7 linked regions of the Homo sapiens genome follow. The protein of the gene in region 3 purifies or fractionates together with the protein of the main gene of each other region. This does not show direct contact. Each region holds a gene or a part of one and is shown on either strand. Other genes may lie near its edges.

Region 1 (4,477 bases), on a different chromosome or scaffold from region 3:
CTGTGTGGAGGGTCCATAGTGCCCTTGGGACCCTCCTGGCAGCCCCTGAGCTGGCCCCGGGGTTGAAGGGGCCCCTCTGCCGGTCTCTGGAGCTCTTCACTGCAGACAGGCCAGCTCCCTTGCTTTCCTCCCCAGGGCCCCAGCCTGATCCTCCCCCACCCTCCCCTCCTGTCGCTCCGCAGATACCGCTAATCAGCCCCTCCATGGCCCATGATTGCGCTCCCAGAGATATTTTTACCTTATGCAAATAGGTGATGTAGAGGTGCCCTCATCTGCCGGCAGCCAGTCCCCCGCCACTCCCCCGGCCTCCAGCTGCATTCCCTTTGCCGTTAGAGCTGGCTGAGCATCATGGCCTCGCCTTCTAGATCTCCCTAAGCACCTTCAGGGAAACTGTCCTTTAAGGATGGTGGATCTGCTGCTCCACACCTTCCAGCACAGGAGCCTTGGGAGAGGTTTCCCGTGCTTGGGAAGAACAGGGAGGGTACCCACGACATTGCCAGTATCTTATTGAGCTGTGGGAATGCGCCCTGGGCCAGAGGTGAGGAGTGCTAGTGGAGGGGCCCTAGGGGCCTCCTGCCTCCCTCCACTCTGGGGTCCTGGTGGAGCCTGGCCCATCACCAGTCTTGGGAAGTCCAGACCCATCAGCCTTCTTGGTCAATGATGGGTCAAGGAGGCCGAAGGCTGCCTGCCCCAGGGACAACCACACAGGCCTCTGGTCTCTGTCATTTGCACGTTTGTCGAGCACCATCTGCTGCACAGGGTGGTGTCAGGCACTAGCATGCACTTTACGATTCCTCCTCACAGGAACCCAGGAGATGAGGCAGGTCCTGGTGCAATCCCCCTTTTACTGATGACCGACAGAGATAAGGAGGTGGAGTGACACCTCGGAAATAGCCAAGCCAGGGTCTGCCTAGCTCCACCTGTCCCCAGAGCTGGTGGTGGTTTCTCAGCTCTGCATTTCCACCTCATTGCTCTGGGGCTGTTTCCCGGGTCCTGAGAGGCCTCAAAGCTGTGGCTGCGCATCCAGTCTGCGACCCTGGCAGCTTCTCCATGCTGCCCCTCCTTGGGTCAGCAGCTGCTCCGTCTATTGGCAGCCTGGGTACCACTGAGCTGGCCTGCCCAGCCACACCAGGGACCTGGCCGGGTGCCAGGGCTGGGCTGGTGGATGGTACCAGAAAGCAGGTGCCTGAGGTATTAGATGTAACACTGGTGGCAGGCAGATATGTGAGTGTGATCTGGCCGGCCAATATGGCTGTCAGCCTAAAGCAACCACCGTGTCCAGCTACTGCCCTGCTGCCTGGGCCCTCGGGGTGCAGCCCTCACCTCCCAGAGCACTCAGAGTGCCAGCCTTAAGGGCTTCTCACTCTGGAGACCCCCAGAGACCCAGACAAGTCAGACACAGACACTTGCAGTGTCCAAGGTCCAGGGCAGCCCCTGGCCTCTGCTCACTGCCTCCCATGGCGGTCACCGTGCTCTTGAGGGCTTGAGGACATGAAGCAGGCAGGGCAGAATCCCCTCTCTACCACAGCTCGGCCTGTCTCTGCCCTCTGGCTTGGCCGTGCAACCTGTGGGGTGTGGGTTCCTTGTTTTGTAGGTGTGTTGGGTCTCCCAGGGAGACTGTAAGTTCCTGAAGGCCAGGATGCCTCAGCCTAGTCCTCCCATGGCCCCCAGCTGGCACAGAGGGTGTTGAGAAACATCTGGCAGGGTGGGTGGTGGATGGATGAGAAGACTTGCCAAGCAAGCCCTAGAAAGGGAAGGGCACACCCATTGTGTACCAGCTTTTTCCAAGGCTGTTTTCCTCAAACCTCACCCCTCAGCAGCCCATGGTTCCCCATTCTATAGGTGAGGAAGCTGGGGCCCAGGGAGAATAAAGAGTTTGTAGCAGAGCAGGGACTGGGCTTCAGGCTTCTGTCCTGCCCTTGAGCCTGGATGGGTACCTGCATCTGTCTACTCCTTCCAGGAGATTTAAGGTCTTTGGGGAGCAGTGCCAAAGAGTAAGGCCTCAAGAGGTCCTGAATCCTTTTGGGTCCTTGGCCTGGTAGGGGCCCACCCCAGAGGGGCTAGTGCAGTTGTCAGCTACTGTGGACACAGCTTCTGTCCTAATGGGGGAAGACAAATAGCAAACACCTAATTGAAATGTACAGTGCATCAGATGGGTGATAAGCATGGGAGGAAGGAGGGGGTGCAGGGTATAGCTGATGGGGCCTTTTTAACGTGTCAGAGAAGACCTCTTAGATAAGGTGGTATTGAAACAGCGACCTGAAGAAAATGAGGATGAAAGCCTCTCAGTTGTCTGGCGGGAGAGTGCATCAGGCAGCAGAGGCAGGAAGTGCAAAGGCCCTGCGGCAGGAGCATGCCCGGCTGGGGTGGATGGTGGTGAGGTCCAGCTAAGGTGGGGTGACAGTGAGGGCCTTGTGGCTCTTGTACAAATGGCTTTTCCTTTGCAATGGGAAATCTTCAGAGGGTTCTAAGCAGAGGATTGACCAGACCTGACCTGGCCTTTGTTCTGGCTCTTATGTGAGGAGAGATGACAGGGAGGAGGGTGCTGAGGCTCACACGGTCACCTGGGCAGGAGGTGATGACGGCTCAGATAGAGCAGCGGTGGTGGAGGTGGTGGGAAGTGGTCGGCACAGGCTGTGCATGTTTGGAGGTAGCAGTGCCAGGACCTGCTGACAGAGTTGCGGCTTCTTTGCAGAACTGGCTGCGGCTTTATGGCTACCTGCCTCAGCCCAGCCGCCATATGTCCACCATGCGTTCCGCCCAGATCTTGGCCTCGGCCCTTGCAGAGATGCAGCGCTTCTACGGGATCCCAGTCACCGGTGTGCTCGACGAAGAGACCAAGGAGTGAGTTCCCCCCACCATCCACACCCCACAGGCACCTGCCTTCCATCTGGCCTGCTCTCAAGAGGGCTCAGCATGTGGAGTTTCCAGAAAAGAGTGGCCTAGATAAGAGATGCCAAATGGTTTGGTCCTCCATGTCACTTCTGATTGGTTGGAGTGGCTGCCCAAAGCCTTGTATTGAGAAAGCTCCAGGGGCAGAATCCAGGCCTTAGCAGTAAGAAGCACAGTGATTGATTAGTGATGTCTGACATGGCCAGGGGAGTGTGGAGGTACAGTACAGGAGCTGTGGAAGGGAAATCGTAGCTAGGCATGGCTATGAATCTAACAAGTGACATGACCTAAAGCCATGTCCCTGAAAACAATGCACAGAGCATAACGTATCCAGGACAGAAGGCCTTGAGCGAACCCTCCATTACTGGGTGATAAGGAGAGAAGGGCTCACCTTGACTGAACCACTCCTGGGCACTCAGTCTTCCAATACAGGCATTTTGCCCATTTTACTGGAAGTTGAAGCTGAGAGTCCCCCATCCCCACTGTGTCATAGGAGGGGCGGCTGGGAAGCCCGGAAGTGGCGGAAGTGGCAGTGCCAGAACAGGCAGGTGTGTGGAGGGGAGGCTCCGTGCTCACCCCTCTGTGTCCATGTCCCAGGTGGATGAAGCGGCCCCGCTGTGGGGTGCCAGACCAGTTCGGGGTACGAGTGAAAGCCAACCTGCGGCGGCGTCGGAAGCGCTACGCCCTCACCGGGAGGAAGTGGAACAACCACCATCTGACCTTTAGGTAGGGGGCTCAGCTGCCCAGGGAAGCATCTGCCCCTCGGCAGGCCGAGCCTCAGACCTCCTTTCCCAGAGCCCACCTCGGCGCCCAGCCTTAACAGTCCAGCCCGCTTTCACGCTGATGAGACCAGCCACACACGCCAGGCAGTCTCCCTCGAGGGAAGGTCAGGACACTTCAAGCTACTTCCACCCTGTCCTTCCCCACCCCCCACCTCCCTGCAGGCAGGGGCTGGCCTCACTGGGCACAGCTGGGCTACTGCCCCAGCACAGACTGCAGCAAGGGATGGGGGATGGCTGGGGTGCAGGAATCCAGGCATCCATCAAGTGAACAGGCAGCAAGTCACCTGCAGAATCCTTGGATCAGGGGCCCTCATCCTTTTTGCTGAGTTCTTGAGCAAGAAAACCCTCCAGCCAAGTGTGCCTTGAGCCATGTGGTTGTCCCCAAGGGCTCCCCTTCTTGTTCCAGTCTGGCTCTGTCCTGACTCCAAGCTCCATCTCCCAAGGAAGAGTGGTTCCCATGGTCACTTAGACCTCAAGCCCCCAGAGTGAATTCAAGGTCCAACCAGCTAAAATATTCCCTTCAGGTTTAATGTCTAGCACACAGAGCTGAATCTGATTTATATAGGTAAGAGCAGGCCTCACCATACGTCATCAAATGCAGTCTCTGGCTACAACTTACTTCCTCTAATCCTCACTGGAACCCTGTGAAGAAAGTACCACACACACACTCTTTTCTAACTTAACAGATAAACTGGAAATCGGCCAGGCACAGTGGCTCACACCTGTAATCCCAGCACTTTGGGAGGCCAAAGTGGGTGGATCAGCTGAGGTCGGGAGTTCGAAACCAGCCTGACCAACATGGA
Region 2 (4,477 bases), about 67 Mb from region 3:
TGGGCTGTCTTTAGACTGCAGCACTGCCCTTAGGTTAGCTGCAAGTGTGTAGATACGGAGATGCAGTTTGGATTCTACAAACTGCCTGATAATCTCCAGTACTTGGAGACAGAGATTTTTGGGTTGGCTTTTATCCTGCTGAATTGCAGGGCAAAGATCTGATCCTGAAATTTAGACAATCATCACAGCTATAAATCAGAAAAACCTGGGTTCAAATTCTGCTTGTGATATTTATTAACCCTGTGATTTTGACTAGATAACCCACATTCTTTGTAAACCTTAGTTTCCTTGTCTTTAAAATGAGGGTCATAGTACCGCTTTCGCAGGACTTGGAGGAATTAAATGGTATTAAGTTGGTGCAAAAGTAACTGTGGCTTTTGAACAGCATGTGCATACAGTGTTCAGTACAGTATTTGCACTAAGTCAACTCTCGATAAACATTTGCTGGACAGCAAATGTGCTGATGCTGACGAGATTATCAACGTTTACACTCTGAATGCTAAAATGTGTTAGCTCCATGTCTATAATGCACAGGGTGCTTCCAGGTATGAGACCATGGGCCACCAGTGCCAGATCTTTGGAAGCTCTAGTGGAAGAACCGGTTCTTTCTTTAGATATCATGACTTCTAGCTTCCTATCTTAAGGAGGCTTCAGGAAAACTGTGAAACCAGCTATAAGGTACTTCAGAAGAGGGCCAAAAATGTCATTAAAAAGATGGGAAAAATGATTTGTAGGGATACATGAATGGCCTCAAACAGAGAAGTATGAGATTCTTCATTTAATTCTAGTCTGTGGAAGCTTGGGTGAGGAGACTGCTAACCAGATGTGGTCCTATTTTCATTGCAGCTAATACAAAACCAAATGGGCTAAGGATAAAGTTGTATTCTTAGATATAAGAACTTGTTGACAGGAAGGGATATGAGGTAACTGAACATGTATAAAACATCTTCACCTGGAAATATGTACAATGAACCAAAGATAACAGGCCATAGTTACAACAAGTTTTTCAAAAGTAACTAGCCGCAAAATGCTGTTCTTGCCCAATATTCACAGTGGCTTCATTCAAATTCACCAAATATATTCAGAGTTTTCCCACTTTTCCCATCACAATAGTGATGCTTTTCCATAAAACAGAATAAGACAAAACCAAAAAACAAAAAGTCAGAATGTGAAAAGAGGAGAAAGTCTAGGGAAATTCAGCTGTAAGCCCTCTCCCTCATTTCCTTTATGGCATGAGCTACATTTGGGTTTTGCTAGTCTGCATTCACCAGACTTTACCCAGCTCACTGGAGTTGTGGTTGTAGTTGGGGAGTGTCAGGGACAGGAATGGAAAGGTGAGGAACTTGCCTGGGCAACATAGTGAGACCCCATCTCAACCAAAAAATTTAAAAAATTAGCCAAGCACGGTGGTGTGTGCCTGTAGTCCTAGCTACCTGGGAGGCTGAGGTGGGAGGATGGCTTGAGCCCAGGAGGTTACAGTGAGCTATGATTGCAGTGCCACTGCACTCCAGCCTGGGCGACAGAATGAAATCCCATCTCACTGATATTTCATATATTGACATTTTATCCTCAATATATGAAAAATGAAAAAGAAAGAAGTCTCACAGCCTCTGCTCTGAACTCTAAAATGAGCCCTGTCTTTTCCATGTCTGCCACGCAGCTGGAGCTTGCTTCGCTCGTATTTAACTTTTCTGCCTTAGATCTCCCAGGGCCCCGGCCACATGAAAAAGTACTTCTGTGATCATTCTCTAACTCCCAGAATATAGGTATTTCTCCTTTATCTGGACTAGCCCAAACCCTTGAGCACTCTGAGTTATTCAAACTTCAGGTCAACTTTTTCCTACCCCTTTTATATAAGGATCTCAATCTTTTTTGAATTTCTCCTAACTCATCTATACTTTTATCCTCATACTGAATAATTTCTCGTGTTCTGAAACCAATCTGTCATGTAAATGACCTCAAGGAGAAGGGGTCATATTAGATCACACACTAGCTAGTTTTGGGATCTTCTCATTTTGTTTTTTTAAACCACTTAGAAGATTAGCAAAGGGAAGTCCAAAAAAAGAAGAAGAGAAATGAAGGCCTAATTAGTGACATCCAGAGGTGACAGAATAAAACTAAAGAGACTATACTTTCAAGTGTAAAGGTACTGGGAAGGGAAATGTTTATTTCTTTATTCAATATTTAATGAGTACCTACTATGTCCAGGCCCTGTATAAGCTGCTGGGGAGACAAAGCTAGTTCCGGTCCTTAAAGAACTAATAGTCTACACAGCATTTCTCAAGCTTGGTAACACTGATATTTTGGGCAGGATAATTCACGTTGTTTGGCATGGTGGACTGTCCTGTGTAGCTGCAGGATGTTTAGCAGCATCCTTGGCCTACATCCACTAGATGCCAGTAGGCATCCCACATCTCCTTCCCAGTTGTGACAACAAAAAATATCTCCAGATAATGGCAAGTGTCCCCTGGGGGACAAAAGTGTACCCCAGTTGACAACCACTAGTGTAGGAAAAGCAGATCATTTATATAAACACACTGTGACAAGTATTATTATCAAAACTTTGCAAGTTAGAGAAGAGGACTCCTTAATTCTCGGGGAAAGAGAGCAGATGCTACAGAAGGTTTCACAGAATAAATGACATTTTATGCTTAATATATGAAAAATGTTTTGCAGTAGGCCAAGCAGACAAGAAGAGGAAAAGTTAGGAACACATGGAAGGAACAGGGAAATAACAGGTAGAGAAAGACCATTCGAAGGCAGATACAGGAAGATGAGCAAAGGCCTGGGGGTAAAAGACCACAGAATATTCAGGCAATGATGGACGTTTACACGGTGGAAAATGAAAAATAAGACTGAAACCAGATCATGCCAAGTAAGAAAGGAGGTGGAATTTTAATATAAAGAAATAAATGCATATTTTAAACAGAGTGGAGCCCCTTTTCAAACAAAGCGTTACCTAGAGCCCCAGTATATTAAACTGATCAAAGTGTAACTTCTGTGGTTGGGTCATGGTCCACTCAGTTTTCCCTGAGCTTCTAAGTTGGCTTCAGAAGCACTTCTGCAGAACCCTAGAACTCTAGGAAACATAATGGAAAAACCACTTTTGTAGGTAATAGGATACTACTGAAAGATTTTAAGTGCAGAATATATGTTCAGATTTGTTTTTCAGAAAAAGGCACTCTAGTGGCAGGGCTGAATACTGAGTAGGAACAAGGGGAAAAGCTTAAAGGGACAAAGACCAGTCAGCATTTTATATGTAGGTTTCACTTGGACATCAGTCTTAAGGCTACAAGATACATGAAAAAAGCACATTGGCTTTGAAGTTGTACAAATCTGGTTTAAAATTCTAAGTGTGCTACTAATGACGACCTTGGGCATGTTAGTTGACTTTGCCAAGCTCTATTTTCTCATTCTGTAAAATGGGGCTACCTACCTCACTTGACCACTATAAAAAAGTACATGTAAATGGAGATTGGGCGCTGGCATAGATAAGCGCTTAGCAAATATAGATGTGCATCATCTTCTTTCACTTGGTCTCTTTATGATTCAATTTTATTAAACCTCCTTGATCCTACATAACTTAGAAAAGGGAGATTTAATTGCTTGCTGTTAATAACTTTTCGACTTGGTAAAGAATAGATACATAATTCTTTTTTATAAGGATGTATTTTTTGAGTGACCTGTTAGCATGAGCCTCATGCTAAGAGAAGGTCAGCATTTGGCTTCCTCTTACTTTGGGATGTGCCAGGACGTCTCATAAGAGGGAGTTCAAAACAAGAGTAGCCAAAACCCAAGCACTACGTGTGTCTGCCTGGCTCAGAGAGAGTGTTTCTGGCCTACTTCAGGTTAACAAAGCTTACATCAGTTCCATAGTTAGAAAGTCAGCAGCTAAAAACTCCACCTGTGTACAAATCTTTCAGGAGATCAAATGGTGTGAGGATTACAAAGACTGGATTAGAAAAGCCAACTTGCAAATCCAAATTTCCCTCTATTCTTTACCATCCTGTGTCAGTAAGTATTTCAGCTGTGAATATTTATGCCCCTCTCAGAGAAAACAATCTTTATTTCAAGAGCACTGATCTGTTTTCTCCTTTTCTTTCCCACTGTTTATCATCACAGTGATGACATAATGTCAGTTGAGACAAATGTCCACCATAACCAAGTGAGAGGTGCAGGGCTGGAGGATATAACTGGGTGGAAAATTGAGAGGAGGAAGAGTTCAGCTAAGTATTTTAGGATCACACACAGTGTCTGCAACTCAGTACATTATGCCAGAAGTCTTACAGTCTTACTTTCAAATTGTAGACAACAAGGTAGTCAATAAAAGCTTTCTGATACTCTCAAGGCATTTTTCATCCCTGTAACCCCTGTAACAGAGAATCTATCTTCTCTTACGGCTGCAGATTCCCTGGACACTATTCAGCATCACATCCACCTTCTCTGCAACTTGAGATTCTGATGTGAGGGAGAATTC
Region 3 (4,477 bases):
GAGGTTGCAGTGAGCTGAGATCGCACCACTGCACTCCCGCCTGGGCGACAGAGCGAGACTCCGTCTCAAAAAAAAAAAAAAAAAAGCAAAACACACTTCTTATTCTTGGAGAATAAAAACAATCCAAGTCAGCAGGCATTTGCAGGCCATATTGACATGACCATTCTTGCTGTCTCCTGTATGCTTGCCTCTGTGCTGAAAGGGGTTTCCTAATGTATCATAACAACATTTATTAGTCAGAATCTGCATAAGTATTTAAGCATATTGATTCATGCCAAGCCTTCTGGGAAACATCTTGACTCCTCCCTCTACCTCTTTAACAGACCACCTCAGTGGAAGCGGGTGGCAGCTTTATGACATTAATGTGAAGGGCCACAAACTGAAACAACTGACTCACATGTGGAAAGGGAAAAAAGGCATAACAATAGTCTTTGATTGTGAGGAAGACAGATTTCTCATTTGTACTTGAACTGCTATGTGGTATCTATTAATATGTGCAAGTAGTTTGTAACCTACAAATGGATGTCAAACATTAGGTATTGTTATTTAATAAAGGTCAGGATTTAAGGGTACAAAGCAAATGTGTCTAGGTCACATTGTTGATCTATATTTCATTTCTTCACATTAATGGTACAGTTATTTACTACAGGCAAGACACTGTGTTAAGCCCTATAAATGTGTTCACTTTTTTTTTTTTTTTAGATGGAGTCTCACCCTGTTGCTCAGGCTGGAGTGCAATGGCGCTATCTTGGCTCACTGCAACCTCCACCTCCTGGGTTCAAGTGATTCTCCTGCCTCAGCCTCCTGAGTAGCTGGGATTACAGGATTACACCCAGCTAATTTTTTGTATCTTTAATAGAGGCAGGGTTTCACCATGTTGGCCAGGCTGGTCTCGAACTCTTGACCTCAGATGATCCACCCGCCTTGGCCTCCCAAAGTGCTGTGATTACAGGCGTGGGCCACCGTGCCCAGCCAAATTGTGTTTAATTTTCATACCAACTCCAAGATAGATACTATTATCCCAATTTTCAAGTTAAGGAAACTGAGGCTCAGGACTTGCACAAGATCACATAATTATTAAGAGACAGGGCCAGGATTGAAATCTAGGCATTCCTGGAGCTCAAGTCTGTGTTTTAACACATTACACTGCCACTGATAATCTGACACGAATGTAACACTCAGATGATGTCAGTGTTGGACGGGGGCCACATTCCTTTTTATTTAAGGGTTAACTCAAAACACAAATTACATATTCACATTTGATTAATATGGTAGAACAAAGTGTGAAAATGAAGCCATAAAAAGTACACAGAACAACTAAGTTTCATGAGTGAGGAAAGAAATATTTAAAGCAAAACCTTTTTCAAAAAATTGCCCAAGCTGTTTTTGCTTTGAGCTAATTTCCATGAACAAACATATAAAATGTAGTTTTATTTTGGCATCATGATTTTCTTTTTTCCTTTTCTTTTCTTTTTTTTAAGACAAGTTCTGGCTCAGTCACCCAGGCTGGAGTGCAATGGCACAATCTCAGCTCACTGCAACCTCTGCCCCCAGCTCAAGCCATCCTCCTACCTCAGTCTCCTAAGTGGCTGGGACCACAGGCGCACATCACCATGCTCAGCTAATTCTTGCTTTTTTGTCTTTTTGTAGAGATGGGGTTTCACCACTATTGTCCAGGCTGGTCTCAAACTCGTGAGCTCAAGCAAGCCACCCACCTCAGCCTCCCAAAGTGCTGGGATTACAGGTGTGAGCCACCAGACTCAGCCAACTTTCATAACAACAATAAAAAGCAGTCTCTAGCAAGTATAGAATTTGTTCTTTTTTTTTTTTTTTTTTTTGAGACGGAGTCTCGCTCTGTCCCCCAGGCCGGAGTGCAGTGGTGCAATCTAGGCTCACTGCAAGCTCCGCCTCCTGGGTTCACGCCATTCTCCTGCCTCAGCCTCCCGAGTAGCTGGGACTACAGGCGCCCCGCCACCACGCCCGGCTAATTTTTTGTATTTTTAGTAGAGACAGGGTTTCACCATGTTAGCCAGGATGATCTCGATCTCCTGACCTCGTGATCCGCCTGCCTCGGCCTCCCAAAGTGCTAGGATTACAGGCGTGAGCCACCGTGCCCGGCCAAGTTACAGAATTTCAACATCGTGTCATCAGTAAACTATTAAAGTACTTTTAAAGTTCAGATGATAGACGTGTCTCTATACTTGAGGCCTAATAAAGGCAACTCTTGCTCTGAAATGAACACTGAATATTTCAGTCTCTTTTACCTCAACCTCAAATTTTTGCCTCTGATATCTTCAGTTTCCTTCAAAGGCAGAAATCTGGGAAGCCATCCTGACCCCTGATCCCCATCTCTAAGCATACTACATTGCTGGCTGCATTAGAACCTAAGGCACTAAAGTACAGAGTGCCATCACTCATTCTTGACCTGTATATAGTAACTAATACTTCTAAAATTAATTACTGGACAGGTCAGTCAAGACAAAATTGTTTTCTGTAGGACACCAACCAATCACTTATTTTTCTTTAACTAAAATCAAGACAAGTCTCCAAAACCAAGAGGAGCTTGGTGAAAGAACATGAAGCTGGAGGATGACAGCAATACGTACAGATTTTTTTTTTAAACAATTAAGGTAATTTTTTAGCATCTACATTTTAAATAAGTTAAATTTTGGAATAACAAACTTCATCTTATTTTCATGGTGCAAAAGCCTGAGACACTTCCTTTGTGACATGAAGAAAAACATCCAGCAAGGAGGAAAGGCTTCTGCAATAAAAATGATTACAACACATTGCAGTAACTTTTTTTTTTTTTTGAGATGGAGTCTTGCTGTGTCGCCTAGGCTGGAGTGCCATGGTGTGATCTCAGCTCACTGCAACTCCCGCCTCCTGGGTTCAAGTGATTTTCCTGTCTCAGCCTCCCGAGTAGCTGAGACTACAGGTGCCCGTCACTGTGCCCGGCTAATTTTTGTATTTTTTAGTAGAGACAGGGTTCCACCATGTTGTTCAGGCTGGTCTCTAACTCCTGACCTCAGGTGATCCAACCACCTCAGCCTCCCAAAGTGTTGGGATTACAGGAGTGAGCAAGCGTGCCTGGCCCCACACTGCAGTATCTTAAGGTAAACTTTTATGTTCAAGTAGTGACCCAACAAATGAGGATCTTGCATTGGGCCCACCAAAACTGTATTAGTGCTTTTTAGACAATATGAATGCACATTTGCAATGGATAAGCATTTAAGATAAGAGTCTCTTGGCTGGGCTCAGTGGCTCATGCCTGTAATCCCAACACCTTGGGAGGCCGAGGTGGGCGGATCACTTGAGGTCAGGAGTTCAAGACCAGCCTGGCCAACATGGCAAAACCCCATATCTAGTAAAAGTACAAAAATTATCTGGGCGTGGTGGTGCATGTCTGTAATCCCACCTACTCAGGAGGCTAAGGTGGGAGAATGGTTTGAGCCCAGGAGACAGAGGTTGCAGTGAGCCAAGATCACACCACTGCACTCCAGCCTGGGCTACAGAGCGAGACTCCAAAAAGAGTTTCTCTTTAGTTTATTTCTCAAGTGTGCCTTTCTAGCTCGTAAATTTGATAATTTATTCAACAAATACTTACCAAGTACTACTATATATCACTGTTTTAAGTGCTAATAGTGATACGTGTCTACAGCACATCTAAGAAATACAAATTCTGTAATAAAATTTTACTAAGAAATAATGGGTAAAGCTGGTCACAGTGGCTCCCATCTGTAATCCCAGCACTTTGGGAGGCCGAGGAGGGCAGATCACATGAGGCCAGGAGTTTGAGACCAGCCTGGCCAACATGGCAAAACCCCATCTCTACCAAAGATATAAAAATTAACCAGGTGTGGGCCGTGTGTGGTGGCTCATGCCTGTATTCCCAGCATTTTGGGAGGCCGAGGTGGGCGGATCACGAGGTCAGGAGATCAAGACCATCCTGGCTAACACTGTGAAACCCTGTTTCTACTAAAAATACAAAAAATTAGCCGGGCATGGTGGTGGGCACCTGTAGTCCCAGCTACTGGGAAGCTGAGGCAGGAGAATGGCATGAACCTGGGAGATGGAGGTTGCAGTGAGCTGAGATCGCACCACTGCACTCCAGCCTGGGCGACAAAGCGAGACTCCGTCTCAAAAAAAAAACCAAAAAAAAAAAAAAAAAAAAAAAAACCAAAAGAAAATTAACCACGCGTGGTGGCACACGCCTGTAATTCCAGCTACTCGGGTGGCTGAAGCATGAGAATCATTTGAACCCCGGAGATGGAGGTTGCAGTGAGCCAAGATGGCTCCACTGCACTCCAGTCTGTGACAGAGCAAGACCTTGTCTAAAAAAAAAAAAAAAAAAAAAAAAAAAAAGAAAGAAAAGAAAAGAGAAAGAAATAACGAGTGGAAACCGCGGCATTTAATATTATTCGGAAAATGTAATGCAAACTCATGTACTTGGAACAGCACTTCACGATATAATTCT
Region 4 (4,477 bases), on a different chromosome or scaffold from region 3:
TTTCTTCATTGCCATAGCAGGTCGCTAATTTTGACACTAGAAGGGAAAAATAATCCAGTATTATTTTCTCCACAGCTATAAAGTTAAATGTTTTACTCTACTTAAATAGCATATAGAGTCATTTCTTAATACCCAAAATGAGTAGATGGTTAATGGTTAACTTTGTTGCAGATTTAAATGTGAAAATTATAAGGTTTCATCTGTCTGCTCATGAAGTATGTCGTGTTTAGCTTTTGAAATAATTCACTATAATTGAGAGAAGAAAATAAAGCTATAATTAAGAGAAGAAAATAAAGCTGATGAGGAATATAATTTCAGATTGATTTTAATAATTTGACTCACATCTTAATTGGATCATGTTGAAAAATTAGATCTTAAACCAGGTCACATTGAGATAATTTTTTTTTCTTCTTTGAGATGGAGTCTCACCCTTTTGCTCGGGCTGGAGTACAGTGGCACGATCTCAGTCACTGAAACCTCTGCCTCCCAGGTTCAGGTAATCCTCCTGCCTCAGCATCCCGAGCAGCTGGGACTACAGGCATGTGCCACCATGCCTGGCTAATTTTTGTATTTTTAGTAGAGACAGGGTTTCACTATGTTGGCCAGGCTGGTCCCAAACTCCTGACCTCAAGTGGTCCACCCACCTCAGCCTCCCAAAGTGCTGAGATTACAGGCATCAGCCACCATGCCCAGCCATATTGAGATAACTCTGCACAAAAGAAAACATCAATATCTACCTAATTCAGTAAAAGTAACCCAATTCTTTACGAAATGATTACATACATTAATGGATATTGTTTTTTTATAGAGAAACAGATTTACAAAAGTTCATTATGCAATAAAAATTTATCAGTACTGTTTTTATCTTAAATCTTAAATGACTGAAAATATAGCTGTATAATTATTTTACAAATTCACTCTCTAAAACAGTCATTGGACTTACCAGAAGTTAGATAAATATCTTGTCCCAAACTTCAATGTCTCTATTCTGGAAAGCACAGTAAACAAATGTAAGAAATAAATTACTAAGAAAAAAAAAGATAATCATTAATACCTAGAGTTAGCATTTCTATAAAATAAACAGCAAGAGACATTCATAAATGTTTAAGAAATATGATTATAGGCCCACACTGGTATATTACAATTAAAAAGTACACTCATGCTACCATTGCTTTGGTGAAGACAACTCTACACTGTTTAGTGCCACTATATAGAGCCCCACCTAAGAATTTATTTTAAACAAAGTTTTCAAAAGCTTTGTTTCTTAGGAGAAAAAGTATGAAGATATATAACTGACTATGATTCTTTTTAGTAACTTTGCCAGATAACCTGAAGGTGAAACATAACATTCAATTATACAATTATATTAGCCCTATGATAATATTTTCCTACAAAAGATTTCCTTTCTCCATACTTTGATTGTATTCTTAGAACTATTTTATCATTATTCCATACTATATAATCTTACTGAAAATTATCTCAAGTCCTTTGTAGCTGAGGCAAAAAATGAATAAATGAAAGCAAAGGATGAAAGGAGAGGAGGAGATGTACATATAAGAAAAATGTATTGTTTTTATTCTAAGATTATCTTGCTAACTGGCTTATTAGGAGGGCAGGCACTGACTTGTTCTCCCAGGAATGAAACATTTCATCTAACTTCCTTGTAACCAATAGCATTTACTTGTGAGAAATCTGGTCTGTTATGGTTACAGGAGATGAACATAGCAAACATTGAGCCCACAACTTGGGCTTTATTTACATCATCATCTAATCAATCCATATAAAAAGTCAAATCACCAGCTGGGCGCAGTGGCTCACTCTTGTAATCCCAGCACTTTGGGAGGCCAAGGCAGGTGGATCACCTGAGGTCGGGGGTTTGAGACCAGCCTGACCAACATGGTGAAACTCCATCTCTACTAAAAATATAAAATTAGCTGGGAGTGGTGGTGCACGCCTGTAGTCCCAGCTACTCGGGAGGCTGAGGCAGGAGAAACGCTTGAACCTGGGAGGCGGAGGTTGCAGCGAGCCGAGATTGCACCATTGCACTCCAGCCTGGACAACAAGAGTGAAACTCCGTCTCAAAAAATAAAAATAAAAAAAGTCAAATCACTATAATTTACCCATGTTTGATCATTTAGAATGCAACATAGCAACCATCCATCAGAACTACTAAAAAGGTCTTCCTTATACTTAACTTCCCCGTAACTTTTCCCTACTGGACCTAGTTTTGTACCACAGACCCTCTTCCATTAAACAACCTTGTAAGTTTAAAAACAGCTGCCATGAGCCACAAAATTCCTTCTCCAGTCAGAATCCTTAATTCTTTCAACTACTTCTCAGCCCCTGGTTTCTTAAGCTTTCAGCACTCAAGACCACTCCGAGTTGCTGACTCCAGTTATCTGATACTGACAACACCATGTACGGTAACCCCTGTGCCTCCGTTTGCTAAAACCTATAAAACTAGGATAATAATCCTAACTACCTCATGAGATTACTGTGATTACATGGGCTAATCTGTGTAAAGAGCCTAGAATACCTTACATGTAATCAGTGTTACATGTTTGCTATCGCTATCATTCATAGAATCACAGCAGCTTTTTTGGTAACTCGATCATACTGACTCATTCAGCTAAAAATATGCTACTATTTTCTACATCTCTACAAACTACACTTGAAAAAAACCTTTTTGAGCCCAGCAAAGATTATACATCTCATCTGCTTATTAACTTTCATGAGGTGGGCTAAGACATAGCCTATCCTTTCAGTCTGTTTCGGGAACACAGTGGATGACATGAATGGGCTTAGGAGCCAGACTGAACATACTGGAATACTGGCTTTACAATCTTAAGCAAGTTACACCTCTCTGTGTCTCATTGTTTCTCTGAAAATGAAGATGATAAATCATTCTATAAAGACCTATTTAGCACCTATGTACCCTAATATGTACCACCCATTTCCTCAGCAGCAAATAAAGCAAAGTCTACAACCTCAAGTGACTTACATCCTAGAGGGGGAAGATAGACAGTAAACAAAGAACTAGTAAATACATGCTAGGTCAGATGATGACAGGTGCTAGGGAGAAAGATAAACAGCAGTGTAAGAAGAATATGGAGTTCTATGTCAGGCACGGGAGTAGGGGAAAGGAGGAGGTTGCTATGTTATATAAGGCATTCTGGGAAGACTTCTCTAAAAGATATTTTTCAGCAGAAACCTGAGGGAGGAAGGAAGGAAGCAAACTTCCTAGCTAAATGAACAGCAAGTGCAAAATATGTGCACTTGGTGTGGCCTGAGGAGCAGCAAGGATGCCAGGCTGAGAAAGTGACAGGGAGGGCACTTGGAAATGGACCAGAGAGGCAACACTGTAGAGCTTTCTATGCACGCTTTTTTTTTTTTTTTTTTTTTGAGATGGAGTCTGGCTCTGTTGCCCAGGCTGGAGTGCAGTGGCGTGATCTCCACTCACTGCAATCTCCGCCTCCCGGGTTCACACCATTCTCCTGCCTCAGCCTCCCGAGTAGTTGGGACTAAAGGTGCCCGCCACCACGCCCGGCTAATTTTTTGTATTTTCAGTAGAGACAGGGTTTCACCATGTTAGCCAGGATGGTCTCGATCTCCTGAACTTGTGATCCGCCCGCCTCGGCCTCCCAAAGTGCTGGGATTACAGGCATGAGCCACCGTGCCCGGCCTCTATGCACGCTTTTATCTAAGTGAGATGGAGAAGGCATCAGAGGGCACTGAGCAGAAGGGTGAGGTTGCCTGGCTTGGGTTTTAAGTGGCTGCTGTGTTGAGAATATACTACACAGGCAGCAAATAGGAATATTTGCAATAAGTGATGAAAGTGGCTTACATACATGTGGCAGAGGGAAGGCAGTAGGAAATGGTCAGTTTCTGGATATATTTTGAAGATAATGCCAACAGGATTTGCTAATAAATTGACGTAGAATCTGAGATAATTATATGGTGTTTTGGCAACCTGAGTTTGTATCCTGGGAGGCTCTGCCACTTACCATGTGACCTAGCAAGTACTTAAATATCTTTCTGCCTCAGTTTCTTCATTTGTAAAATAAAAATAGCATCTACCTAATAAGACTATCGTGAAGATTACGTGTAAAAAAACCTAGCAAGTACTTAAATATCTTTCTGCCTCAGTTTCTTCATTTGTAAAATAAAAATAGCATCTACCTAATAAGACTATCGTGAAGATTACGTGTAAAAAAACTCTTAGAAGAGTGCTTTCTACCATATAAGCATTAACTATTGCTATCATCATTATTATTCACTTATAAGCATTAACTATTGCTTATAAGCATCTAAGCATAGTTAATGCTTATCACATATAAGCATTAACTATTGCTATCATCATTATTATTCGCTTGCTTGTGAAAAAATAAGAGTTGCAGGAAGAACAGGTTTGAGGGTGGGATGGAGATCAGGAATTCCATTTTAAACATGTTAAGTTTAAGATGTCTATTGGACATCC
Region 5 (4,477 bases), about 54 Mb from region 3:
TCAAGGAGTCCCAATGTGGCTGGGTCGCCCCAAACCTTATCTAGTATACCTTTCCCCCTTTGGATGGGATGCCCCATTTCTCCGCAGCCTGTAACCCGGCTCAACTAATATTTGCCAGTGCCTCCTACTCCAATAGAATGATGGATGTCGATGGTCCAAGAGTTTATGACAGTAATTTTCAAACTTTTTTTTTTCTAAAGCAGCAGAATCAGCCGCGCGCAGTGGCTCACGCCTGTAATCCCAGCACTTTGGGAGGCCGAGGCGGACGGATCACAAAGTCAGGAGATCGAGACCATCCTGGCTAACACGGTGAAACCCCGTCTCCACTAAAAAATACAAAAAATTAGCCGGGCGTGATGGCAGGCGCCTGTAGTCCCAGCTACTTGGGAGGCTGAAGCAGGAGAATGGCGTGAACCCAGGAGGCGGAGCTTGCAGTGAGCCCAGATCGCACCACTGCACTCCAGCCTGGGCGACAGAGTGAGACTCCGTCTCAAAAATAAATAAATAAATAAAAATAAAAAATAAAGCAGCGGAATCCTTTTCCCCTTTTCCAATTGTATGCAGGATCCTAGTGTACAAGAGAGAAAAAGACAGAGGTGTTCTGTTTGAAGGGGAGGTTTGATTTCCTCTGCTTCCCTCCCCTGCCTGTGCTGGCTCTTGAGGCATCTCTTCAGCACCTTTAGCCTCTGCGGAACCCACCTGGAAAACCCATGCTCCACAAGGTATCACAGCAGCTATTCGCCACCTGTTTTTCATGGTCAGACAGTAAGTCCTTCCTGTTATTTAACCTTGTCCCACCCACAGGTTACAGTGGCTTGAATCTTCTCTTGCTCTGTCCTCAGTTGAAAATGAAGCTGACCATGGCACCTGTGTCACGCTCAGCACATGGGCTTGTTTATTCAAGCCATTGGGAGATGCTAGAACTCACTCCTTGTCCTACCTGTCAAAACCTCCACAGGCCTTGGAAAAGAGTAAGTGGTAGGGCCAGGCACAGTGACTCACGCCTGTAGTCCCAGCACTTTGGGAGGCTGAGGTGGGCGGATCACTTGAGGTCAAGGAGTTTGAGACCATTCTGGCCACATAGTGAAACCCCGTCTCTACCAAAATATATATATAAATTAGCCGGGTGTGGTTGTGCGTGCCCGTAGTCCTAGCTACTTGGCAGGCCGACGCTGGAGAATTGCTTGAACCCAGGAGGTGGAGGTTGCAGGGAGCCGAGATCGCGCCACCGCACTCCAGCCTGGGCAACAGAGTGAGACCCTGTCTCAAGAAAAAAAAAGAAAAAAGGCTAAGTGATGAGATTCACTGACCTTGAAAGACCAAGCAAGAGGACACCCAGCCTACAGTGCGCAGCAGAGAGGGTGGCCCCAGAGTGACAGCAGCTCAGGAAATATGGTGACAGAGGATAAGTTGGCATGGGAGGAGGCAGAGCTTGGCCAGTTTGCTTTGAGGAAAAGGACCTAGGAGTCCCAGCTCCCCCACGTCAGAATCCCCCCAGTTCTGCTGATTTCCTCATTCTCCCCAGCACAGCCCAGCTCTCCTATTTTGGGAAACACCTGGCTATAGTACCCAAGGCTGCGGTACTAAGGATGTACTCAGGTGCTGTCGCATCCTGCCAGGAGAATCTCAGGGCAGCTCCAGAACTCAGAAAATGTTCTGGTTCCTTCCCAGAACTCTCCCCTGCCCAGGCACCTGAAAGAGAAGGCTCCCAGGAGAGACAGAAGTTAGTCATTAGGTATGGGGGCTTCCCTGGGAGGTGTTTCTCTTCCTGGATTTTCTTTTTTTGAGATGGAGTCTTCCCCCTGTCGCCCAGGCTGGAGTGCAGTGGCATGATGTTGGCTCACTGCAACCTCCGCCTCCTGGGTTCAAGCGATTCTCCTGCCTCAGCCTCCTGATTAGCTGGGATTACAGGCACGTGCCACCATGCCCAGCTAATTTTTGTATTTTTGGTAGAGACAGGGTTTCACCACGTTGGCCATGCTGGTCTTGAACTCCTGACCTCAGGTGATCTGCCTGCCTCGGCCTCCCAAAGTGCTGGGATTACAGGTGTGAGCCACTGTGCCTGGCCTCTTTCTGGATTTTCAACTGGAATTTTCTGCCCAGCCCTTTATTGGAGAGGCCCAAGAAGGGTTCCTGACCTTCCACCTTAGTGCTTTTAGAGAGAGCACAGTCTTTCTCAATGCCCCCTCACTCCCAGCTAAACTCTTCTTTACTGGTCTGGGGAGTAGAGGAGAGGTTTGGAATGACAGGATGAGTGCTCCAGCAAGGGCTTGTGTGCAACCCGAGGCCCAATCCAGGAAAGCCAGTTGTGGTGGCAGGGACTGGGTAGGCAACTTATGGAGCCGGGGTCTTGCTGGCTTTGTCTAATTTGGAGGGTGGTTCTTTGAGCTCGATGGTTTTCAACCTTTTTATTGCAAAAACTCTTTTTTAAAAAAATATAACCCAGAAGTCCACTGTATAAAAACAATAAAAGCAAAGTTATCCTGGGATGCTCAGGAGATTTGGGGCGGGGGGATGGGGATGGCTTGGTGACAGGAAGGGCGGGGATCTAGAGTGTTGACTGCTCCCAGCCTTCTCCCTCACCGCTGAGGTCCCTTTACAGAACCCTGCCAAGCAGGGAAGGAGAGGAAAAAAAGAAAAACCACCTGGTCCTTCTTGGTTTCTGAGACTCTGAGCCCTCATAGTTTTCTACTGCTCTGATCATTTTCTCTTGCTCCCTTGTCTATACCTAATATTCTTTTCCTAATCATTTTTCTCCTTTCCCTCTCTGTTCCCTCAAAGAACAAGTCTATTTTTTAACTTGGCCTCTCTGTGGATGAGTCCTGTCTGCCTGTCCAGTTCTAACTTCTCTCCAGATTCCCACTGTCAGCTGGTGGCTGAATACTTCCACGAGGATGACCCACTAGCATCTCAAAGGCATGTCCCAGATCGTAGAACACAGGAAGGAAAGGCCCCGGTATTTGAACCCCTACTCTGTTCTTCTTAACAGAATCACTTTGGACAAGACACTTAGTCTCTCTGGGTCTCAGTTTCCTTATCCCTGAAATAGATATGCTAATACCTATCCCTTATAATTAAAGCAGAATAATAAACATAAACTTTGGTAAACTATATTGTACTTCCTGGCTGGGTGCGGTGGCTCATACCTGTAATCCTAAGACTTTGGGAGGCTGAGGCGGGCGGTCACTTGAGGTCAGGAGTTTGAAACCAGCCTGGCCAACATGGTGAAACCCCCATCTCTACTAAAAATACCAAAAAAAATAGCTGGGGGTGGTGGCGGGCACCTGTAATCCCAGCTACTTGAGAAGCTGAGGCAGGAGAATCACTTGAACCAGGAGGTGGAGGTTGCAGTGAGCTGAGATCGCGCCACTGCACTCCAGCCTGGGTGACACAGCGAAACTCCATCTCAAAACAAACAAACAAACAAAAAAACTATATTGTGCTTCAAAAGCTTTCCCCTGTTGCTTTGTTCCCTGACAAAAAGTCAGAGAGGTTAAATAAAGCCATCATCTCCTCTTCCCTCTCTCTCACCCCATACATCTCATCAAGCGCAGAGAATAACTGGTTAAACGATGGATGAATGCTGATTCCTCCTTTCTACCCTCACTGCCACCATCCTCTTTCAGGCCCCCGTATCCTGAGATCCTTGTTTGCATGTCTAGAGTCATGATGCTAGACTCTCCAAGTTATTCTGCACACTGAAGCTGTTTTCCTGGAACTAAAATTAGACGATATCATCCCTCTTCTCGTATACCTACAAGGATTCCTTACTGTTTGCAGAATAAAACCCAAAGTCCTGTCAGCCCCATGGCATCCCCACCATGCCTTCTGGCTTCTCACCACAGTTCACGCTTTTCTTCATGAAGTGCTCCTCCTCACCACTCTCCATATTGCAAAGCTTTCTCCTCTTTCAAATACCTCCGTTTTGGCTGGGCGCGGTGGCTCACGCCTATAATCCCAGCACTTTGGGAGGCTGAGGCGGGTGGATCCCTGGGCGAGACTCCCTCTCAAAAACAAAAACAAAACAAAACCCTCCTTTTCCAGCAAGCTGTGCCTAATACCATGTCAGAAGTAGCTGCTTCTCTCTGTGCACTTCCAAGATCCACTGTTTCACTATTTGTACCAAATGCATTTGGTTTTGTGTAATATTTAGGTATTATGTCTATGTCTCACATCAGATTGTGAGCTGTCCAAGGGCTAAGACTATGGCATTATTTTTCTCTTCTACACACAGTAGGCAAGTACTCAACAAATATCTGTTAAACTGAATTGACTATCACCAAATTTCACTCCTAACAGTTACCTTATTATCCTATGTTTGGTCAGTGATGCTCATAATATCAAAATGAGATAACATCCTTTTATTTATTTATTATTTATTTAGAGACAGGGTCTCACTCTGTCACCCAGGCTGGAGTGCAGTGGCGCAATCTCGGCTCACTGCAACCTCCACCTCACGGGCTCAAGCGATTCTCCT
Region 6 (4,477 bases), on a different chromosome or scaffold from region 3:
CCAGCCTGGGGGACAAAGTAAAACTCTGTCTCCAAAAAAAAAAAAAAATACACACACACACACAGACACACACACACACACACACACACACACACACACTCTTCCTGCTCTAGGCTACACATTTGTACAGTATGCTACTGTGCTGAATACTGTAGGCAATTGTGACATATTTGTGTATTTTTTTTTCTTTTTGAGACAAAGTTTCGCTCTTGTTGCCCAGGCTGGAGTGCAATGGCACGATCTTGGCTCACAGCAACCTCTGCCTCCTGGGTTCAAGTGATTCTCCTGCATCAGCCTCCCTAGTAGCTGGGATTACAGGCATGCACCACCACACGTGGCTAGTTTGTATTTTTAGTAGAGACAGGGTTTCTCCATTTTGGTCAGGCTGGTCTCGAACTCCAGACCTCAGGTGATCTGCCCACCTCAGCCTCCCAAAGTGCTGGGATTACAGGCGTGAGCCACCATGCCAAGCCATATTTGTGTATTTAAACACATAAAAGGTACAGTAAAAATACAGTATGATCTTAGGGGACCGTTGTACTTCGGTGACCAAAACGTTGTCATGTGACATACGCAGTGGTGACACCCTTTACGAGCACCGTCTCTAGAGGTTTAATTGCTTTGTCCTTTCTAAATGAAACATAAATGGATGTTTGGAAATCCTAAAGGCGGTGTCTACATCATCCTATCCAGCATCCACACTCAGCAGCACAGCAGCGGGCGCGTGGGACCCCAGCCCCCACCTGCAGGCATGCACGACCACGATAAGCTTGTTTCTCTGCGAGCTGTGCCGGATGGTCAGCTGGATCTGCCCCAGTGGAGACTGTCCCAGGGTCGTCCCGCTGTGGGAAAAGAGCAGAAAGTCACCAGCTTGCCTGAGACTGGAGAACGTTGTGATTCATTGGTCCACTGTACACGATAAAATAATTTCTATTCATTTAGACAAAAAGAAGTCAAATTACCCATGAACTTAAACATAATTTGAAACTTCTGGGTACAAGTCAAACAGATGAATATTTTACTTGAGGGTTCAATATAAATTAATTATTCAAAACTGACATTATTTCTTTTGTTTTTGTTTTTTGAGACGGAGTTTCACTCTTGTTGCCTAGGCTGGAGTGCAATGGCGCAATCTTGGCTCACTGTAACCTCCGCCTCCTGGGTTCAAGCGATTCTCCTGCCTCAGCCTCCTGAGTAGCTGGGATTACAGGCGCCCGCCACCACGCCCAGCTAATTTTTTGTATTTTTAGTAGAGATGGGGTTTCACCATGTTGGCCAGGCTGGTCTCAAATTCCTGACCTCAGGTGATCCACCTGCCTCGGCCTCCCAAAGTGCTGGGATTACAGGCGTGAGCCATCGCGTCCAGCCAACTGACAGTTTTTTAGTTAGGGTCCTGAAAACTAAAAGTAAAATCCTAAGCCCCCACCCCACTCCCATGTGAGTGGACCCAGGGGACCCCAGAGAAACTTAAACACTGAGTTCCTGACCACAACAGGACGGGAGGTTATTTATACCCCCCCCTTCGCAGTTCAGATGCAACAACCGACTGGCATTAATGCTGCAGCAGAGATCGTTAAGACTGAAGGAACAGATTCCTTGCGGCAGTAAGATACCAAGCTACAAAGAAGACCTGGGGCCATGCCAGGCAAGGGTAAGCCTCACACCCAACGCTTAACAGAATAAACTGGGTTCTACCTGCCACCAGGTGTTTCTTTCTCCAGCAGCTAAACAAGCACTGGCCTCGAGAGCAGCAGTGTTAAAGCAAAATCCCAGCTTGTCCTGATCCAGATGCTGACTCAGTGACCCCTGCTCCACCGGCGCTAACTGCAGCTTTGACTGACGAGAGGCTGATTTCACAACTTCCTCCTGATGGCAGACCCTGACCACGGACTGCTGCTGGCTGTTCTAGAGAGGCTGGGCACTCTGCGGCATTCACAGCTCCTCCTGGAACCTGCTGAGGACGCGTGCTCCGCACAAGCTCCTGCCCTACCCTTCCTCCTCTGAGGTGCTTCCGGGCCTGTCAGGCTGGCCAGCCTGCAGGCTGCAACCCTATAAGGATAAGGAATAGTCTCCTTTCTAAATGTGCAGATCTTATGATTCACCAATTGAGCACCCGAGGTTAAAACCACACAGTGTCCTTATTACAAGCATCAGCCCTGTGGTCCTTGTTAAGCAGTTTCTAGCCTGTCCTACCCGAATTTGCATGTCCCGTCTCAAAGCCTCATGCAAGCCACGTGCTCTCTTCCCATCTGATGAGACTGCAGCGCCCTTCCTTCCATTTCTCTCTGCTCAAGGATGGAACACAGACCCCCAAAATGACAACTGGTCTTGTTTGTTCAGTGGCCCCTAAGATCATTTCTACTTCCCAAATTGAGCTCCTGAGAAAAAGTGTTTCCTTGTTTAAAATTCTATTTCCTTCTGGAGCAAGAGAGAAGGAATGTTTTCTTCTTTCCAAAATAGTGGACATGAGAAAGCATGAAAGAAAAAAGTGAGTGTGGCTCAGAGGAGGGCGGCTGTGCAAGCTCCACAGTCTGCGTGTGCTTTTTCTAACAGCTCAGAAGCACCTTTGCCTCCGTTTCTGTTACTATTTTCTTATTATTCAACACACCTCTTATAACACCACACAGGGAGAACTATTTCAAAGGTCAATTTTGTTTCTTCCACCAAGAGGAAAAGGTTAACATCTGAAGCTTGTGATAACTACAGACAACTTTTTCCTCCGTATCTAAAGAAACCCTTAACACACACCTATGAGTCATGGGGCTTAAATAAGGAGCCAACACAGACATCCGAAGACAAACAAAAGAGACTGAGCAACAGGGATGGGATCCAACTACGTGAAAGAGCAGGTCTGTCCTCACACAACGGGGAGGCCAGGGCTTCTCCAGTGGCCGCAGCGAGGCCCGCGGGCCAGCTCTGCGTCTGTCTTCCTGGCAGAGGCCCAGGCACACAGCAGCGTCCCGGCGCTGCCTCCTGTCTTTCCTACTGTGAAACCTATTACTCCATCACGTTCTAATCTTTAATGACTAAATCCTAGAAAATGGCAGGTTTTATTTCCAAAGTCCGAGATGCAGTGAGCAAAACGGCAACACAACCTGAAGTGCTTTCAGTTAACCTAAGATTAGGCCTCCCTCCCCAAAGCATGCCGGCCTCATGCTCTGCTGCGTTAAACGACTCTCCCCCAGCGTGGGGTGGGGGGCGCTTGCTCTGCTGGTGAGAAACAACATGGTGGCACTTAGTTACTTTTCCAGCTGCCTCAGCCTTTGCCGCAGCTCCTGGGTGGCGATGGGCAGCGAGATGTCCGAGGCGATGCTGGGGGTCGGCTCCTTGACTGAGATGTGGCCTGGGGAGGCCAGGAGGCTGGAGGAGCTTCTGCCCAGGTCGTGCAGCCCCTGAGGGCCGGCCTCAGGGGGCTGGGCCTTTTCTTCCATACCAGGCTTATCACTGCCCCCAATGACTGGTGTGGATGGAGCTGTGTTGCTGCCACCAGGGCCTGGAGACCCAGACATATGAGATTTGATGGATGTTTTCCTCCCCTCTTTGGACACAGAGGGACGTTTGACTTGAGCTGAGTGTTGGTGGTCTGGAGGCCTTTCTCGCTTTTCGAGATGGAGCACCTAGAGGTGGACATAAACATAAAAATTAAACTTGGTGACACTGGTAACATCCTAATACTGGAACAGCCTGGGATGTCTTTACCTGCAAAAATTTCTTTAAAACTTAGCTCAAAAAAAAATTTTTTTTTAAAGGAAAGTTTAGGTAACCAAAATGTCACTTCTGTGATACAAATACCACTTTTTTCCCAGAGATGAGGACCTGCTAAGCTGCACAGGCCAGAGTGCTGTAGCTCTTCACAGGGGTGACCATCGCGCACTACACCACAAGCTCCTGGCCTCAAGAGATCCTCCCGCCTCAGCCTGCCAAGTAGCTGGGGCATCGCCGAGGCCTGCGTCTTCAGGCTCTGGTGGCAGCAACAGGGCGGTGGCAGTGATAAGCCTGGTGTGGAAGGGCAGGCCACCCCCCTGAAGCTGACCCTCTGGTGCCACACAACCTGGGCAGAAGCTCCTCCATCCTCCCCAGGCCACGTCTCAGGCAAGGAGCCCCCCATAACACTTCTGCGTATTCCTCTAGTCTCTTCCGTTTCCATGTATTTCTACACAATTGTGGGACAATGTTTTTACATCAAGAGCCCAGAGTCGCATTTCCTCGACACAAGACCAAAGCCCGTATTCTACATAAGGGGTTTCCACCCGGCGTCCCCAGAGGGAGGAAGAAAGTCCAGAACCCCTGCTATCCAGCAAGATCACCCCAACAACCTGACATGAGTGCAGGAGCAGGGGGTTCCCGCAGGGCCTGGGGTCTCCCAGTTGTGTGAGCACATGAGCTGGTCCCTGGGCTGGCTTGAGCAGAGTCCACACCTTGTAAATCACTCCACTCACGTGACAGCTTAAAGGTTTTTTCTGGTTTTAGGAAATAA
Region 7 (4,124 bases), on a different chromosome or scaffold from region 3:
TTAACTCACCATTCTCTGCATATGCCTCACACTCCACATCTTGGCACTTTAGCTCATGTTCTTTCTTTATCTCGGGCTGGACCTTCTTCATGTGGCAAAAACCAAACCAGGACCCAGCCGTGAAGTTCACCTCCCCTGAGAATCTTCTGTTGCTCAAACCCTGCATCATGGCTCGTTTTTTTTTTTTTGGAGACAAAGTCTCGCTCTGTTGCCCAGGCTGGAGTGCAGTGGTGTGATGTCAGCTCACTGCAACCTCCGCCTCCCAGTTTCAAGCGATTCTCCTGCCTCAGCCTCCTAAGTAGCTGGGATTACAGGCAGGTGCCACCACACCCAGCTAATTTTTGTATTTTTAGTAGAGACAGGGTTTCACCATGTTGATCAGGCTGGTCTTGAACTCCTGACCTCGTGATCCTCCTGCCTCAGCCTCCCAAAGTGCTGGGGTTACAGGCGTGAGCCACCGCGCCCTGCCAATGGCTCTTGTTTTATGCTACCCTTTGCTCAGTTGGCATTTCCACATAGCCACCTGCCCTTTCCCCAGCACAGTGATGAGAGTTTCTGGCTGTTGGCACAGTGCCAAGTGACCCTTGTAACCTTCACGCCACTTTGTATAGAAGGATAACTCCACAAATATTCACTGAACCCAGGTGTAAAACTGGTAAAAGGCAGCTTTTTATAAGCAATCATTCCTTTTTTTCTCCAACTGCTACTCCTTTCATTCACTTCTACCTCTTCGTCTTTGATGTTTGATTGTAGCAGTGAAACAAAATATGCAATTGGACTTGTATAAAAAGCAGTGAGGAATTATTAGAAGACTTCACATGGTGAGGGCAGGAATTGTCATCTTTCTTATTCACAGCCCTATTCTAAGTGCTTGGCACACAGTCAGTGCTTAATAAGTAATTACTAAAACGGTGAGTTCATGGCAATTACAATTGTTTTTGCCAGTGTTTTGTTGCATATTGCCGTACAGTTTATGTAAGAATTTATATCACTTTCAAGTTTTTAAAAACTATCTTAAATATCTGCATCCACCTGACAGAGTACAATATGAAGAGTGATTGACAGTTTACCACTTTTCAGTTTTCTATTAATGACCCAGAAAAACCGTAAGCCAGGTTGCAGTTTGACTCCACAGTCCTAGAGAGAAATAAGGTGAGCATTTGCTCTCAGCCCTCCTAGAATGTCATCGAGTGACTTCATCACTTCGAGCTTTTGTGTTTTCTGGTAAGACCATGCATGAGAAGAGAGGGAGAACATTCTACATTTAGTAACATTTATTTATGCATTCAGTATCAAGTACATAAGTGCAAATATCCAGAGTCCGTAATTGAATCCATTAGGAACTACAGAGAAAGTAATACAAATTGTAATAAAGTTAACATGCTGGTACTTTTTAGTAACCATACATGTAAATCAGCCCACCAATCCCATACAACAAAAGTACTGCATGTTTGTTTTGGATTTATTCATTTATTTAATTATTTTAAGTTATACAAAACTGATTACCATAAGTGCGGTCGACTGCTTTTATTTTTACGTTGTGTGTGTTGGAAAAATGCTAAAACATCAGTCTACAATTCTATATATTGTTATTAAAGATTAATCCAACCAGCAACCCAAGGACATATAAGCGATTTCCACTATTGCATCAGAGCACTCGGCAGGAAAGGCCTAGCCACGGGGAACATTAGAAGCTACAGAAGCATTGCAGAGAAGAGAAGAAGAACACCGAAGAGGGAAAGATAACTTGGGCTCTCACCATCATGCACTTTTTTTAGCAACACAAAATTAAAAACCACATCTAATACACTTTTCTCTATACTTTAGTGGTTGACACAAGTGACTCAAATATCCTAAGAGTACAAGGAACAGCCTAAAAACAGCTGTTTTAAGGTTTGTCTCTAAGATTATGGTACTGGAGGGAGGGGGGAAAGACAATCAATTTGCAGTAATGAGTAAGAAGAGAGCTGTTACCACTCCAGACATTCCTGTTTGTGTCCAGTCCCCGGTGGGAAATCAGTTTACTCAGCATGCCTCTTAGCGCCTGGGATTTTAGCCTGAATCCTAAAAAGACAGTATCAAAAGGTAGTAAATCACAAGTGTTATTAATGAAATCATTTTATGTGTTGTTGCTTTAATTAGCTAAGTGACCAAAGAACTTAATATTCCAGAAGATATTATAGTCTTTATGTAAGTACATCTGCAAATACTCTTCTATAAAGCAATAAGAAGGAAGTAAAAACTGGATAATGAAAATAACAGCAACAAAAAAGAGAATTGGAAGAAAGCCACATTTTTTAGATCTTTTTAGGTGGAGGAACATATTGACTTATTTCAGGATTACAGAAACTGTGATATAGTTAGGGTGATTATTTATCCCCCATCTGGGACACTTCAGAAAGAGAGAGAAAGTGCTATTACTGACTATGCCAGGAAGATGAGCATAAGTAGGGATGGTTATATAACTAGGGATATAATCTGTTCCTATGTTGGACATAGGAAAAGGAACCTATGTTCACCCTCAGAGTAGTCTAATTACCCACAACTGGAATTTAAAAAGCTGGGTCCTAGTCTCAGCTATTCTATTAATTAGCTGTGTGGCATCCGGCAAGCTAAGGGACTTTTCTGGTCCTAAATACTCATTAAAATGTGGGCATAGACTAGATATCTCCAGGGTCCTGAAATTCTGTGATGCTCACAATGTAGCAGCATGATTTTCGGACAGGTTTACACTGGAAGTGTTTTGTTAATTTGAAGATTTATGAGCTTATCGTGCAGATTTTGATTGAGACCTCCCTCTGTGCCATGAGGTACCCTTCCATGTACTGGAATTCAGTGGTCAACAAAAGGGAGGAGATGCTTGCTCTCATGGAGTTTTCATTCCTGTAGGAATTGAGGAGACAGAAATAAACTAGAAGACAAGAGAAGTTTAGATGGTGATAACTGCTATAAAGAAAAACAAGGTGGTATGGCAGGCAGTGAGGGGCACAGTGGTAAGGTGTGTACCACCTCTTTTAAATCCACTCATCTGAGAAACTGATCCTCAGAGGACAGGAAGGGACCATCAGGCAAAGATCTGGATGTGAAGTGTTTCAGGCAGAGGGAGTAATGAGTGCAGAGGCATCACAGAGAGGACAAGCTGGCGGCAAGGAGATGAGAAGCCCGTTTGCTTGGGGTATGGACAGGGGAGGTCTGAAAGGCAGGCAGGGACCAGATGGTGGGTGTTGGAGTTTGTGGGATGCGGTGAGGAGTTTAGATTCTACCCTGTGTGATGGGAAACCATTGATGAATTTAGGCAGGGGAGTGACGTGATCTGATTAATGTTGTAAGAAGATCATGATGGTGGCTGTGTAAAAAAAAAATTGGGAAATGAGAGTAGAAGCAATGAACAGAGGGAGAGAAACCCACAGCAGTCCAAGTACCCGAAGGCAATGCCTGGATTGTATGGTAGACATGGAAATGAAGAGAGGGGAACAGTCTCAGGGTTAGTTTAGAGATGAGGCTGCAGGACCCACTTGATCTGTTGATAAACTGAATGCATAGGCTAGGATTAGAAGAAGAGTAATCAAGGAAGATTCTTTGGTTTTTAGCCTGAGGAACCAGGTGAAAATGCCATTTACCAAGATTGTGATAACTGAAGGAAATACAAGTTCTGGGGTGAGATTGCACGATGTGTGGCTAAGTGAATCTGAAAGGTCTATCAGACACTTTAGAGAAACCTTACATAAATAAGTGGATAGACCTGGTGCTTAGTTGAAGAGGTCTGGGCTGGAGACACAAGTTTGCAGCCCTAGACATGAGATAACCTTTAGGGTCACAGGACCAGAAGGGAGTTGGACAAGAGGAAGAGGTGCCAGCAGAGGACATGTGCAATGGTGACCATCTAACTTCTATTTGAATACTTGAATGAATGTCAGGGTACTCACTCCTTCATGGGGCAGATGGTTCTATTATTGAGCAACTCTAATCATTACTCTTTTCCCTCATATTTCATTCAAATCTCAGAACTTCTAAAATTTCCATTCACTGCTCTTGAGAGAAAAAGGGAAATCCTACTCCTTTAGCAATGTTAGACCTCCAAGTATTTGAGAATGGCTATGGTGTCCTTTTAAAGTCATCTATTT

What was found.
Region 1: the proteins of RTN3 (region 3) and MMP15 purify together in Homo sapiens (affinity purification with mass spectrometry; one large-scale study listed by BioGRID and IntAct). This does not show direct contact.
Region 2: the proteins of RTN3 (region 3) and SNX19 purify together in Homo sapiens (affinity purification with mass spectrometry; one large-scale study listed by BioGRID and IntAct). This does not show direct contact.
Region 4: the proteins of RTN3 (region 3) and TMEM68 purify together in Homo sapiens (affinity purification with mass spectrometry; one large-scale study listed by BioGRID and IntAct). This does not show direct contact.
Region 5: the proteins of RTN3 (region 3) and BACE1 purify together in Homo sapiens (affinity purification with western blotting; one study listed by BioGRID and IntAct). This does not show direct contact.
Region 6: the proteins of RTN3 (region 3) and ESYT2 purify together in Homo sapiens (affinity purification with mass spectrometry; one large-scale study listed by BioGRID and IntAct). This does not show direct contact.
Region 7: the proteins of RTN3 (region 3) and RTN1 purify together in Homo sapiens (affinity purification with mass spectrometry; one large-scale study listed by BioGRID and IntAct). This does not show direct contact.

Annotation. Positions count from the first base shown.
Region 1 is NC_000016.10:58,034,777-58,039,253, forward strand, and holds part of MMP15 (matrix metalloproteinase-15 preproprotein), read left to right. Parts: intron 1-2,695; coding exon 2,696-2,844; intron 2,845-3,489; coding exon 3,490-3,618; intron 3,619-4,477. UniProt on the Homo sapiens protein: Endopeptidase that degrades various components of the extracellular matrix. May activate progelatinase A.
Region 2 is NC_000011.10:130,898,767-130,903,243, forward strand, and holds part of SNX19 (sorting nexin-19), read right to left. Parts: intron 3,080-4,477; coding exon of another isoform or gene 3,010-3,079; exon of another isoform or gene 1-3,009. UniProt on the Homo sapiens protein: Plays a role in intracellular vesicle trafficking and exocytosis. May play a role in maintaining insulin-containing dense core vesicles in pancreatic beta-cells and in preventing their degradation. May play a role in insulin secretion.
Region 3 is NC_000011.10:63,683,832-63,688,308, reverse strand, and holds part of RTN3 (reticulon-3), read right to left. Parts: intron 1-4,477. UniProt on the Homo sapiens protein: May be involved in membrane trafficking in the early secretory pathway. Inhibits BACE1 activity and amyloid precursor protein processing. May induce caspase-8 cascade and apoptosis.
Region 4 is NC_000008.11:55,762,993-55,767,469, forward strand, and holds part of TMEM68 (DGAT1/2-independent enzyme synthesizing storage lipids), read right to left. Parts: intron 989-4,477; 5' UTR 944-988; intron 37-943; 5' UTR 1-36. UniProt on the Homo sapiens protein: Catalytic subunit of the alternative triglyceride biosynthesis pathway, which mediates formation of triacylglycerol from diacylglycerol and membrane phospholipids.
Region 5 is NC_000011.10:117,305,544-117,310,020, forward strand, and holds part of BACE1 (beta-secretase 1 isoform A preproprotein), read right to left. Parts: intron 1-4,477. UniProt on the Homo sapiens protein: Responsible for the proteolytic processing of the amyloid precursor protein (APP).
Region 6 is NC_000007.14:158,738,280-158,742,756, forward strand, and holds part of ESYT2 (extended synaptotagmin-2), read right to left. Parts: intron 3,618-4,477; coding exon 3,244-3,617; intron 843-3,243; coding exon 744-842; intron 1-743. UniProt on the Homo sapiens protein: Tethers the endoplasmic reticulum to the cell membrane and promotes the formation of appositions between the endoplasmic reticulum and the cell membrane. Binds glycerophospholipids in a barrel-like domain and may play a role in cellular lipid transport.
Region 7 is NC_000014.9:59,594,724-59,598,847, forward strand, and holds the end of RTN1 (reticulon-1), read right to left. Parts: intron 2,065-4,124; coding exon 2,022-2,064; 3' UTR 1,260-2,021; downstream 1-1,259. UniProt on the Homo sapiens protein: Inhibits amyloid precursor protein processing, probably by blocking BACE1 activity.